Homo sapiens: one gene and its partner. The protein of the gene in region 2 interacts with the protein of the main gene of each other region in a pairwise test. Each region holds a gene or a part of one and is shown on either strand. Other genes may lie near its edges.

What was found. Proteins that work in one complex are often made in the same cells at the same time.
Region 1: the proteins of FOXP1 (region 2) and SATB1 come close enough for resonance energy transfer, tested with the Homo sapiens proteins (one study listed by BioGRID).

What each region holds. Positions count from the first base shown.
Region 1 is NC_000003.12:18,394,340-18,401,339, forward strand, and holds part of SATB1 (DNA-binding protein SATB1), read right to left. Parts: intron 2,952-7,000; coding exon 2,840-2,951; intron 578-2,839; coding exon 123-577; intron 1-122. UniProt on the Homo sapiens protein: Crucial silencing factor contributing to the initiation of X inactivation mediated by Xist RNA that occurs during embryogenesis and in lymphoma.
Region 2 is NC_000003.12:71,573,688-71,580,854, forward strand, and holds part of FOXP1 (forkhead box protein P1), read right to left. Parts: intron 1-7,167. UniProt on the Homo sapiens protein: Transcriptional repressor. Can act with CTBP1 to synergistically repress transcription but CTPBP1 is not essential. Plays an important role in the specification and differentiation of lung epithelium.

The sequences.
Region 1 (7,000 bases), about 53 Mb from region 2:
ATCACATGAAGAGAGAGAGAAAATGTTAGTACAGAAGTAAAAGAATAAACTTTAGTTATAGATGGGACTAAAGAAAGAGAAAATAGGAGACAGCACAGAACCACTTATGAAACACAACTGACCTGAGTTCTGTTAAAAGCCACACGTGCAAATACCGCCTGGGAGATTCCTGCTCGTTTCAGTTCATCGCGTACCCACTGGTAGATTTCGGAAGACACCTCTGTGTTGGTCGAAACCTGTTGCTCCAAAGGCTTATTCATAGATCTACTGACAGGGGGAGGGTGGTTCAAGTATTGTTGGTTTAAGGACTGCTGGGCTAAAAGTCTATTCACTGCATACTGCTGGTTCAGCAGCTGAGCCATCACCAGCTGCTGGTTGACCAATTGAGGACTGATAGGTGTTGATACGAGCCCAGGGTGCAGGTTTGGAAGAGGTGTCCGGACAGAGGGCTGGCTGCCATGGGAGAGCTGCGCAGGGGATGGAGGCTGCTCGGCTGTGTTCCCTGGAACTGGTTGCTGGCCAAAATTGACATGATTGGCGCCTTGCTGGGATAGCTCAGAAAGACTATCCATTTCAACTAAAGTGGACAAAGAGTAAAATCACATTCAGCCAACAATGATTGGCATTGATAAAGATTTCTAACCATTTCCTAAATTAAAAAAGGGTAGGCACAGGGCACACCCCAAATCCAATAAAACCAAGAAAATTTCAAGTTGCAACTTACCAGGCTGTGTTTTTGCTCTCCTTTCCTGAACAATTCTACAAACTTTGGAAATGGGACAGCATTCCTAATCTTATTTTTAAAAAGTGGTTTAGATTTAAGGCATAAAATCAATTATTACCCAAACTCTTTCCAACTAGTTGTTCACTCTCACTTATTACCCCAAGAAGGCTTCTAAGCAACAATTTTTAAAAATGGCTTCTAAAAGAATGTCATTTGCTTAATGACAACTACAAACAGTGAGCTGAGCTGAGAAAATAAGCTTATAATAAGCAACTAAAAAAATTTACAAATATATTCTCATGATATTCATTAACTTTAGTACTCTAGGAAAAAGGTGTAAAAGAAAAAATATGACATAAAAAGTCACCTACTTTCAATTTTTACCCAGCAGTGAATAGAAGTAGTTAATGTAATAAATAAAAATGGGCATAATAATAAGTGTATATTGAACACTTGCTGAATATCTTATATGCCTTGCTTCATTTTAATTCTAACCATCATGGGCAGTAGGTATATCTGGAAATACTTTTTAGAATAAAGCAAGTGATTTATTGTATATCAAGCCAGCATACCCAGTGTTGCTAAGATCCAAATGTTTTTTCTTCAGGAAGCTATGGCCATCACCAGATGCTAAAGACAATCTTGCAGGGAATCGTTCTGGTACAATGGTGAGGCTGTCATGATTTTGCAATTTATTCCCACCTACCCAGGATGAATGCTTCTTCCTTGGCTAGGTTCCTCATATGGATTGGCTGAGCATCATCTCTAAGTATGTAAATGCTTTTCTGTACGAAGAGGAGACTGGTTCGATGCTCTTGGCTGGAAGGGCTGAGCATGAAGCTGTACATAAACAGGACTTTCCAAATTGTACACAGACTTCCCACATGTAGACTCTAGTTTGATTTTAATCATCAATTCTCTTTTCATTAAATATGCAGGTTTTACATTTAGAGGAACTTTATCATAGCGCTATAGCTCCTGATATACGCAAAATATAACTAAGAATTGGGGAAGAAATCTTCAATTTCTACCAGTGATATCAGCCCAAGTGGGCCATTCACAGAGAACAGTAATTCAAGCAATTATTCCAAAAATGATGCATTGTCTTCATTACAGCCTTAAGCTATAAAAGGCAAAGAATCCATTTTGGTAGATGGATGGTTTTTCTTCAAATATTAAGAGCTAAAACTTGCTCAAAATTTGGATTAATTTTTCTTAAAAAATTAAAAAAAAATTAAATGAATGTAAAGAAATAAATAGAAATAGATTTAAAACAGGACATAATGCCCATTCCTATATTATTTTAAAATATATGTTTTGGAGGGTAAAAGTAGGTGAAAGAGAACAGTAATAAAAATTAAAACATTAACCTTAATCACAGTGTTTGCTTTTGTGAACATTAACAAACTCAACAGAGAGAAAATGCCATCATCTAAATGCTTAGGTACCATACACAACTTTTATCTATCATTTTACACTGCAGATAATTTTAGTGTACTTCTTGCATAACAAATATTCACCTAAAGTTATGTGTTAAGATAGAATGCTACCTTGGAATTAAAAGTTCAGAAATGATGCAATAATTGTTCTGGTATGGATGGTAAAGCAATGTGCTTATCAAAGTGCCCATCCATGGCGGCTGGGGGTTAGAGCTATAAAAATCACTTGATCTCTACTGTGGAAACTATAAATAGTTTAATTTAAGAAGTTTAATTTCCTTTAAAATTGGGTGTAAAAATAGGCACTTTCTCATTCAACCAGACAAAAACAAAAAACCTAAAAGCAAGACTTATCAGAGAAAGAAATCACAGCTAATATTAGTTATTCAAGGCCTGGTTAGGTCTTCACTGAGTTGTTAAAAAATGACAGCTCCCCTCCCAACGCCTCAATTTCCTGCATGTCTGACAACCAAGTCAGTTTGGCTGATTTAAACACAAACATTTATTGAATTTAATTATCTCATTATACTCATACCCACTTCCCACCCCCAAAGAAACATTCTAAATTGATCTCTAATTGGGCAATCAAAAGACCTGGCTTTAGATGTGACTTTGATAAACCCCCAAATGACACGTAATGGTATGTAGCCACTGCTGCAATGTTTTTTTTGCTTACCCATCATATCTTTTGTCTTCTTGAAATGTTTGTACCACCTTCCAAATTCTTGACATTTTGCTGCTGAGACATTTGCATAGTAAGTACTGTTCACAATGGAAGAAATCATACTCTGCATGAAGAAGGGGGGAGAATATTTGTAATACACAGCAGCACAAGATGGAACACAGAAATGATCTCAATTGTGGCAACTGTATTTTTTTAATCAACTGAGTACCAATACATTTTGGTTTCACACTTTAGCCTAAAGCTTCGACTTCTTAATATTCATTAAGTAGATCATCAAATGCTTATTTAAGTAGAAAGCAACAGCCCACTGAGACCAGTATAAAGCTATCAAACCCACAGACTTTGCTCTAGCATTCATTGAATCTCCATCAATGCCATCTATTACTAGGCTGTCAAACTCACTGGTCCCAATAAATCCAAATACATGAAGATGACTTTATAATTGTGACTCATAAATATACGAGACTTCGCGATTTTTTGACTGGACTCTACATCTTTTCTACTCAAAGTATAGACCAGGGACCAGCAATATGGGCATCACTTGGAAGCTTGTTAGAAATGCAGAATCTTGGGCCCTACCCCAGACCAGTGCACTTAGCAGCTGAATTTTACCAAGATCCCAGGGGATTCACATGTATATTAAAATTTGAGAAACAGAACTTGCACTTTCCACTCTATTATTTGGATTTAAAGTGGACGCGCATTAACACTGATCAAAGGTTAACTGACCGTATTTGAGAAGAAACAAACTATTCACAGAGATCCTCTATCAAGAGAAAAACATTCTGCAATCTTATTACTGGCTTCATCAATAGTAAAGCTTAAGTTTTGAATTTCAAACCGATCATAAAAATTTTAAATTTATACATTTCATGCTTCTAAATTTCTCAAGGATACCACAAAAAGATGACCTATCGTGACTTATCTTTATCCTGCTTTTAATAAATGCCCGGAAAACTGTCAGCCCTTTAACATACAAAAATGAAGAAAAACATGATTTTAATGAATCACTAGGAGGGTTTCTTTTTTTAAATCATTTTCAATCTTCCCAGCAAATTTTGGTTACGGTAATTTCAATGACTAAATTCATGGTCCATATTAACCTGTTACCCATATTCTCTAGTAACAGCTAACTTAATTTCCTACCGAGTCTTAGGAGTAAGATTTTGTAGCACCAATCTATCCCTCACCCCTATGTGCAGAAACATGAGAACTCACATTTCAGACATCAGTTGGTCTATGGTGAAATAATTTATAGAAGGCAGCATTGTTCAGGAGGCAGTGAACAACCAGAAAAGCCAGTTTGGGGACAAAAGTATTTTTATATAATTATCTTCTTTAAGTTACCTCTAATGTAAAGCTCTTTCAGTTATTATTCATTCTCCTGACATCCACTATCAGTGTTAATTCTGTAGCATGCACACATTTCTGGAATATGTAAATTTGGGGGATCTCTAAAGAACTTCCAGTGAAGGATAAGCTGGAGTCGCATTATTTATGTAAAACACAGCTATCTTTCCTAAGAGGCACTGTGATATCTTTTTTTTTGACACTCTCTATAGTCATTTTCACATTTTATATCTCTAAAAAGACATTCTTAATGTGTTCATGATGCTCTGCCATTAATCCAATAGCTTGCAATTTCACTAAGAGCCTCCCACAGTCCACAGTGTAAAAAGACACTTAGCAAAGTTGCCAAAACCAGAGCCAGAAGATTACCTGATCTGTCAGCTTCAATCTCACTTACTCTCTTGTAATAAGGGATCAATAAAGTCAGACACTAATAAAAACTATTGAGATCGCTGATGGATAATGGTGATTCTTCTGCAAATGGATGACAGTTGATGTTCTTCCACTCTGGTCCAATTTTTAAAAAAATTATTACTCTTTATCTAGACATTCTGGCAGTTCCTTAAATGTTAATAATACACATGAGTTCTAGATGTGGTTTATGTCTTACTTTTTAGAAGTGTATGGAATATCCAAATTTTGCCGAGGTTTTTGACAAACATCCAGTCTACTCCAGTTTGCCAACAGTTCTATATATGAAATTTGCTCTTTGCTGCACACCTACTATATGCCTGGCTGGTAGTAAGGATGCAAAGATGGCAGACAGCCTCTGCCTACAAAGATGAGGCACCTGTCATCCAAAGATGGCGGACAGCCTCTGCCTACAAGAAGTTTACTATCTATTAAGAACACAGATATGTAAATAGATCATCTCAATTTAATGTGATTTGGTATATCAACAGTGGAAAATGTATAGGGGACGACGGAAGGAAGAATCATCCATGGTGTGTGTGAAAAAATGTCTGAAATAGTTTTATAAAACTAGAACCTATATGTAATAGTGCTATACAGTTTATTATTATTCGTACATGGAAAATAATATCCATATGTGCATCATTGTCAAAGCTTCCCCCTACCCTACTTAACCCTAAATTGGTAGGTTCTGGGCTTAAGTGCTTTTCTGTCACATGGTGTATGCTTAGGAAACTCTGATTAATGTAAATAATAGCCTAAGCAAGACTTAAATCAAAAGGCTAATCCGTAACTTATAATGCATGACAAAGCAACTTTTTGGATTCCCTATCTTTTTGTGCTTTTGGGTGACTGGGAAATATTTCCTAATTCAGGTAACTTGGAGTCATGTCTATTTTTATTGGACAATATGCAATAATCTGTCCAATTAGATTGCTCCTATAGCCACTTCATGAGGTGTATGTGTGTGGGCGTGGGCGTGTGTGTGTGTTTCAGGTGGTAAAATTCCTACTAAAGGCTTAGGCATAGCATTGGAGTAGACCAGCCAGCCGGTTTCAATGGCAGGAAAGAGACTGCAGAATTTTGTGGTGCACATGGCATTTGAAAAATCATATACAGTAGTGTAATCTTAAATTTAGAATATCAGGAAAAAAACACGTAATGTTTTGATAACACAAATAAAAAAGTCATGATTGGTAAAATTTTCCTAGGTGGTGGGATGTACAGATAGTAGGCCAAGTTCCATGTTAGAAAGGCTTGGGATTCTTGTGTCACTTAAAAGGAGGTACTGGTTTAAAAAGATTGCACTAAGCTGTGAGTTCACGTAGGTCTGGGGCACCATATTATTTTCTAGCTCAATGCCTGGCATGCATTAATATAAACACTAAATGTTCATCTGACAAAACAGAATAGAAATAAACATATATTCAAGTGAGGATGTGTCACACACTGGTAGTATGACCTTGGGTCAAATAGTTGACCATTCCATCACAATTTCCTATGCTAAATGGGAATGATAATAGCATACACCTCATGGAGTTGTTCTGAGAATCCATCAATTCAGGCATTTTTAAAATTCATTTAGCATATACTTAAATTCTACTATGTGCCAAGCACTGGGCAAGTCACTAGGAAAATAATGACTTGAAGAGACATATTATCTGCCCTTGGACAGGAAATAATAGATGTGATACAATTAGCACAGAGCCTGTAACATATTACATATAGACTGAAGAGATATTAATTACTATGACAATCCTTTGCCTCCTCCTCATCACTGGGCTTTCATTATATGATCACATTTCATATCAGGTGACTATGTTTTGAGTATCAGATAAAATTTTCAAATGATATACAGTATTTTGAGTCTTTTTAATGTAGAATGAAGTATACTGATTAAATTATTAAGTTACAAGTTGGTACAAGGAATAGTAAAGGAAAACACCACGGGGAAATATTTCTTTCCTTCTCATACTCCAATTTGGTGGTGTTTTCTGAAGCTGGCCTATATCTGGTAGAAAGCATCAAGAAGGCACACCACTCCTCTGGCTTGGATGCACGGCCCATGCCCTCTCCCATCTCTAGCTAACAGCTGCTCATCCTTCAGGATACAGCCTGGGCATCCTTGCTTCCATGAGGCCTTTCCTAACTTCCCAAACCTCCTGCAGCAGAGCACTCATCCTGCTGTTTATTTTGCACTGGACTGTGGGCCTTAGGTCTCATCTGAATATATCCTGGACTCATCAGAGGGCTGGACACAGACTAGGTGATCAATAAAAAGGGTCACTGAAACAAGCCACCAGAAATCCTCTTCCCCTTTTTTCCCCTTAAAGGTCAAACATAATAGCAGCTTAACTATGACACGAATCTTTCAAATCCATCGCTTTGGCT
Region 2 (7,167 bases):
TATTCTAATAGACCATTTTCTCCAAAATTATTTAAAGTTGCTTATGGACATAGATGTTATCTGAAGATGCCCCACCCCTCCTTCCCAAGGCTCAATCAACTAGCTTCTTTCCAAATAATTAAATGGGGCAAACTTTCTATTAGAAAATATCTACCATACATCACTAAAAAAAGGTCTGTCATTGATTCCCTAATGAAATATCAGTTAATTACTTAACCTTTCTTAATGAAATGATTAACATTTCAACAAACAAGGCGGAATGACTTCGCATCAAGCTGTAGATTACCAGTGACAGTGGTAACTATGTGTCCTCTACCATTGCGCCGTCTATTCTTTCAATCAGCTCCATGTTTCATCTTTTATAGAAATTCTTTATGCAGTAGTAGAGACACTCTACTTTTAAAATTTGGCCCATAAGAGTTTTTTTTAAGTGCCTCAGGGTCAGAACAGAAATTTTAAAAGTTTTTATTAGACGAATATCCCCAATGCTACCTAAACCTACAGAAAAGCAAACTGTGAAGTTCTAAACGTAAAAACAATTGCCAACTTTTTGGCAGCTATTAAAATAAAGCCACACCTAAAGCCAAAATGGAAATTAAAAATTAGGTGTGGGCATTATGGACACATTATTACCGGGTAACTTCAAAAGCCACATTATTAATACAGATGAAAAAATGTCTCAACAACTTTTATTTAAATAACTCTTTTGATCTTAGTGGTTAGATCTTTAGTTGAAGCCCTGAATATTTAAATAAGCCTCCTTAACATTTTATCTTCCTTTATTTCATAATCTTGTAGGATGCCTTCTTCTTAGGATTCTGGTTTCTTTATTTGTGTGGCATCGTTGGCTAGGCTATTTCCATCAATATTCGTGCATGCCCCATCACATACGATAGAGAATTTCCCAAGATGCTTGGGAAAATCAAAATACTTCTGCCAGCAGGGTTAATCCAAAGAGCAAACAGTTACAATTTTAAAATTAAGATGGAATACTCAGAAAAAAAAATTCTAGAGAGTCATCTGACACTAATTGGTAGCTACAGCATGACAACACCCATTGGGAAACATGGATGCAGGCAAGACAAAATTCAAAAGGAAATTATCTGATATTGACATTTGGTGAAAACCACCGATGTTCCAGGTTGTTCCTATCACGTTATTGAACTGTGAGGCTCTTGTTCTGCCTCTGTTTCTCTAAGTCTCCAAGGTTTCTTTTTGTGCCCTCCTGAAAAAGGAGCTCCGTTTTCTTCTCTTAGGTTTCACAATGGCCAACCAATTCAATTAAACTCTTAAGAAGGGTTGCAGGCTTTCCTCCAACTCTGATAATTGACAGGTCCAGTTTTCCCACTTTGGTGGGCATCAGGACCATGTGGGATGCGATTTAAAAACACAGATGCTGGCCCCACCCCAGATACGGCACATCCAGGAGTCGTGCAACTGTGTCTGTGTTGGGAACAACAGCTCTGCTGTGATTCCAATACTCGTGCTTGGTTAAAAACCACCGTTTTTCATTCGTAATAAAAATCCAAATACATTAAAAACAACACAGGATGGGCCTCAAGGTAAAATCAAAGAAATCATCAGTAAAATCCAAGTGAAGATAGAGATTTCAGTTCCACACATCTGAAAGAATAAATCACTTGATTCACAGGTCTCTAGCATGCATCAGAATTATCAAGGGAAGTTTGTTATAAATGTACGTTACCATGTCAATCAGCAAAAATTCTGACTCAAGGATCTGTATTTTAATAACCTACACACACACACATACACACACACACACACAGATACAGAGGTAGGTGAGCGAGGACCTCACTTTGAACCAGGCTGAATTAGGACCAACTGCAACCTCCCTTCACTTCAGACATGAGCATTCACTTCCATCTCTGTGCTCACCCCCAGGAGGGGAAGCCACCAGTGCCACTGGTCATCAGGAGGTAGGCACCAGGGCAAAAGAAACTCAAGCAAAACTCACATCACACCCTCCCCCAACAAAAGCTGCGGTCACTGTCCTGAGAGCACCAAGAATATCTTTTAAAAATGTGAGTAATAACAAAGCCCTGTATCATTGGATCCCTAAGCTCAAAGAACATATGTTAAAATATTACCCCTAATTCAAAAGCAGGGAACCTGGAGCAGAGAAAGTCACATTATGACTCAATTGCACAGCTGGGAGGGAGAAAGGACACCTCGGAAATTCAGTTTGATGCTAGAAATATTCTTCAGTGTCCTAGTAAACAAAGTGAATCACAAAATTAGCTAAAATCAGAGCATCTGGTAAAATGTGGATGTCCACCTGACTTACAAGTAATAAATAAATATATGTCCAAACATAAAACTCAGAGAAAATGTTTGTCCTAAGCAAATCTATTCTATTGAACATAAACAAGGCCCAATAATCCCACATTCAGATCCATTTTTCCCTCAGTAAATTGTCCTATAACATGCTAGCCTCTGATATCTTCAAACTGTTGAAATCAAACAGAATGACATGGGCTTTCTATTCAATGATCCCATTTCAGCTATTTATCTGAATTAGCAGCAGTTTGAGGAAATACACTCATCACAACATGATTCTGAGTATAGAGAAGTAAATAGTAAACAGAACACTGGAACACAACTGTGTATGTATTCATATTCCTTTTTAAAAAAAAAACTATTTTATTAAAAATACAATTTGGAAGGAAAGTGCAATTAGCTTTGCACAGGCACTGCTGAGATGTTCCCGAACACAGCAGACATATGTAAATATTTCGTGATATCAGTTCCATTTGAGTAGACCTGTCAAGATATTTACAGGGCTTGACAGTACTTCTGTCTTTAATTAAATTTTTGCCCAGATACTTTAATATAATTTAAATAGATTATTAGTTGTCAGAATCGAATATAAATTTTGTTTACGATTTAGTTACTTTAAGTACTCAGACTGAAGGAACTAATTTAACCCTACAACTGAGCAGCTTTAAGCATCAAGGCCAAACCACTAGAAAGCTCCCACTGCCCTTTGCACTCTACCAATAACCTTAAATTATTACAACTGAATTGTAAATTTCATGGCACTAAACTGAGCCCCCCTCCCCTCCTTTTGAAATAAAACAGCTTGGGGAGGGTCATGAGGAAACACCCATTTACACCTGTTCAGGTACTAGGTAGGTTCTCCCTTTCAGGCACTCGTTCTCACAGCGGCTGGCTAGATAGGAAACATTTTTTTCTCACTCTAAGTCCCATAAAATAACTACCGAACAAACACCTGTTGTGTACAAGGCAGGGCATGTATTAAAGACTGGCATCAGGGCATTGCAAAAAGAAAAACAAGCCTTGCAGAGACATCCACAAGCCAATCTGGTCAATAGATTTCACGACTGGGTAAAACAACAGTGCGTGCGAAGAACACAGCTTCTGGCACAACCTTCTTGTGAATGGCAGCTGACTTCTAAACAAGGATTGAAAAATGCCTTAGCACAAACTGACTGTAATTAATAAGAATAATTTATTAAAGAAACAAAGAACACTGTCTAATTGTCTTTCCTGACTGCCATGCACTTTCCCCCATTGTACTTCCTCTTTGCAGAATACCAGCCTCGTAGCCCTAACTGTAAGAACATTATCTATGGGATGCAAAACCAAAACACTTCTAGAAATCAAATATTCCTTACAACATTTATTTTTAGGTTAGCGACACAAGCCAAATCTGCTTAATTTCCATTAAGCACATGGTCACATGCTCATTGAAATAAACTACAAACGTCCCAGGAAAAAAAAAAAAGGAAAAAAACTATCATGCAGAAGATACCCCAAATTTCGCCAGGTTTGCCCGTTTCAGGAACTTGCCTCATCTCAAGGCCTGCTGGCATTCCAGCTTTTGGAGCCTTTATCCTTAATTCATCCAAGTACCGGAGAAGAGAAATATGTTGAAAAATCAGTTTAAGATGGTTCCTTGGATAGCATATGTATAGCAAAGTGGCCTGCAGAGTAGAGTAACAAATGACAAGAAAGATCATTAAAAAAATGCATGGGCCCAAGTGCAAACCTACTTGGCTTGCTGGCTTGTCTCACAAACTCAATGTTTGATCACCTGGTGGGACTAACTACCATCAACTTAAAAAAAAAAAATCCCCTGCAAATAGTAAAAGTATACATTGGCTCAGGTATAAAGTTCACCTGTCTATTCAGCAGATGCCTTTCTTGAGGTTATTTTCTTTAGAAAACAAACCCCTACCTGCTTGAGAGGTTTATATACTCTAGATTCAAAAAAACACATTTAAAAAGAAAAAAAGAAGGCCAATATTGCTGGTATAGCAAAAATGGCATTTACTATGACTGAAATCTATAAAAGAAGTGTGACATCTGACAGGATAAGGAAGAAAGGAAAAGCCCTTAGCAAAAAGAAAAAAAAAATTAAAAACAAAAATACCACCTGTGTAAATCTAGCCATGCTCTGGAAACCCTTTCTCGGTCGTGGAGAAGAAACAGCTCATGCTGAATGCCTTGAAGTTGCAATTAAATTGTAGTAATTTAAGATTATCGGGAGAGCAAAGGGCAGTAGGAGCTCTTCAGAGGGTTTCCCTCCCCACTTAATGCTCTTCAGTCACGGGTTAAATGAGTTTCTTTAATGTAAGTACCTTAAAGTAACAGAATCATAAACAAAATTTATACTATGTTCTGACAGCCTGCAATCTACTTCGGTTTTATTAACGTATACCTAAAATTATTTTTAAAGGACAAAATTCTTGCTATACCCTGTAAATATTCTTGGCATTCCCACTGAAATGTGATAGGTACTGTAACACCTAACCTTGTCTAAATATACATACTTTTTGAGATGTGGAATCTTACAAGATAGTGTTTCAAAACTGAGTTTGAGTCATAAGTAAAACATGAAAATCAAATAAATATGCACAATAAGATTGGCTGCAAAGAGGAAGCTGGGTTCAAAAGAAGTTGTCACATCTGCTATATTCCTTCTCTTTCTTAATTTTGGCACTGGACCCCCTGCAATATAAATATATTTGAAAAATATCACAATTCTTCTGTTAATTTAAACAACTGCTGAAAACAGACATACCCTTCAACAGAGCCTAAGATGCAAATTTACAAGGCCAGGGGTATAGTCTTTAAAAAGGCAAAGAAAAACTCAGTAACAGAAAACCATGCCTAGGCTCAATATTAACTCAGTTAACTTTTGCTATTATAAGTATAAATGGTTTAACTAGAAAATATTTATAGCGTTTTCAAAACATTACATATTGCAGAAAATTGCCTAATAGCATCCATGTGTATGTTTAACCCACATTGCTTAATTATACAATAAAGGTATATCTAGTAAAAACTACAGACTTTGAAACATGTTGTGCACCATGGTTATGAAACTCTGGCTTACAAAAAATATATAAACTGCTTACTATGTGACCGACACTTGTTAATTAAAAATATAATCCTTAAATGACAATTATTTTTATTCTTCTGTATGTGTTTACTTATCCTGTTTCCTACTTTGTTCTACTTAATTTAAAATAACATTTAATTTGGGGATAGTTTATCCCAGAAAAAAAAAAGTGTTACACAGTTTATACTCCACGATTTAAATATAAACACAAAATCTTAGACATCTCCAGCAATATAAACCCCTTATCTGAGACAGTTAATTTGAATAGTTGATGTTTCTTTCATTATACTTTGATAAACCTGTGAAAACAAAATGCTACAGTAATTACTGTTACTACTCCCTTTAAAAATGTAAAGTAGTTAAATTTTCCTAGACAACAAGCAAGGACAAGTTACAGAGAACTTGAATAAAAGTAGCAACGTGGTCATGTTGAATGTCAATCTAAAAAAAGAGGTTGTCTAATCTGGAGACTGCTCTCTCTCGCCTTTTTAAATTCCAAGAGTGGGCTGACACAAAACTTCATCACCAGAGATTTTTTTTTTCTTTTTTTTCTTTTTTCTTTTTTTTTTTTTTTTTGAGCTTCACATCAGATTTAAACTCTCACATACAAAACCTTGGCTTCCCTGACAAGGCAGATCTTCTAAACTCAATGTGAGAAAACGTTATCTAACTCTAGTGTAGGAGTCTAATGTTGGTAAAAAGAATTCCATTGCACAGTTCTTGGTAGCAAGACAGTCTCTGGACGACTTAATATTCCTTTAATACATTTTTGGGTAGCATTCTCCTCATAAAGAAGGATACATTAAAAAAAATAACTTGTTTCGCGACTCGGCATCCATAAGGAACTCAAATGCTGCCCAGAGAGGGGCTGAGTATTTCCTTCCAAGTGAGCCTTCGCTTGCACAACAAAGATTAGCATCTGCAATGGTCCATTTCTGCATAAGTGAACATATAGCCTTGCTGCTTGATCGAATAGTCCAGGGTTCTCCGTGTAGCAGCTCCTGACAACCACCCAGCAGCAGTTCTGTTTGATCTCTCCTGCTTCCTTAATTTGGGTTGTCAAGGTTCAGCAGTTGGAGGCTGTTTACTTTACTTTTCCAAAAAAAAAAAAAAAGTGATTTTTTTTTTCTCCCTCTCTCTCATACAATGACTAATCCAAAGTCTAAGGGGGGTGGGGGATGCAGCCAGTGGCAAGATGTTAAACCTTTTTTTTTCCCTTTGCAGTGAGATTTTAGCTGACACCTTTTGAATGGTAACTAGTTGAGTTCCTTTTTTATATTTTTCTTGCTCTTTAATTGTGAGACGTTTCAAATAGAAAGACAGAGGGGGGAAAAAAACAGTCCAAATTTCTGAAACTGTGAGCTGAGTTTTCTTTTCCTGGACCCAAAGGGATGGGTATTTCCACTTTGAGAATCAAAACTCCAGTGGAATTCTAAAAAAGATTTGATACATTTCTCTCTGGAACAGAAAAATAGCAGGAACTCCTCTTTCTCAATTATGTAGGCTATCCCTGGGTAGAAAACACCTGAAGTCTTACTATTTCTTTAAAAATTCTAGTTTACACATCTCCCTCCAAATTGATTCTTGCTGTGGAAAACGGGGGTGGGGGAAAGGGGATGGAATGGAAAAATTTTGCAGCGATTCTTCAATATATTTTCAGTAGCAGAAAAATTCCTTTAAATATCCTTGAGGTCTTCTCAACTCAGCTATTGTCCAAGCCCTAAACCCTTAAGTCTACGTACAACCAATGGTGAAGTGTAGACGGTTTGAATGTACAGATG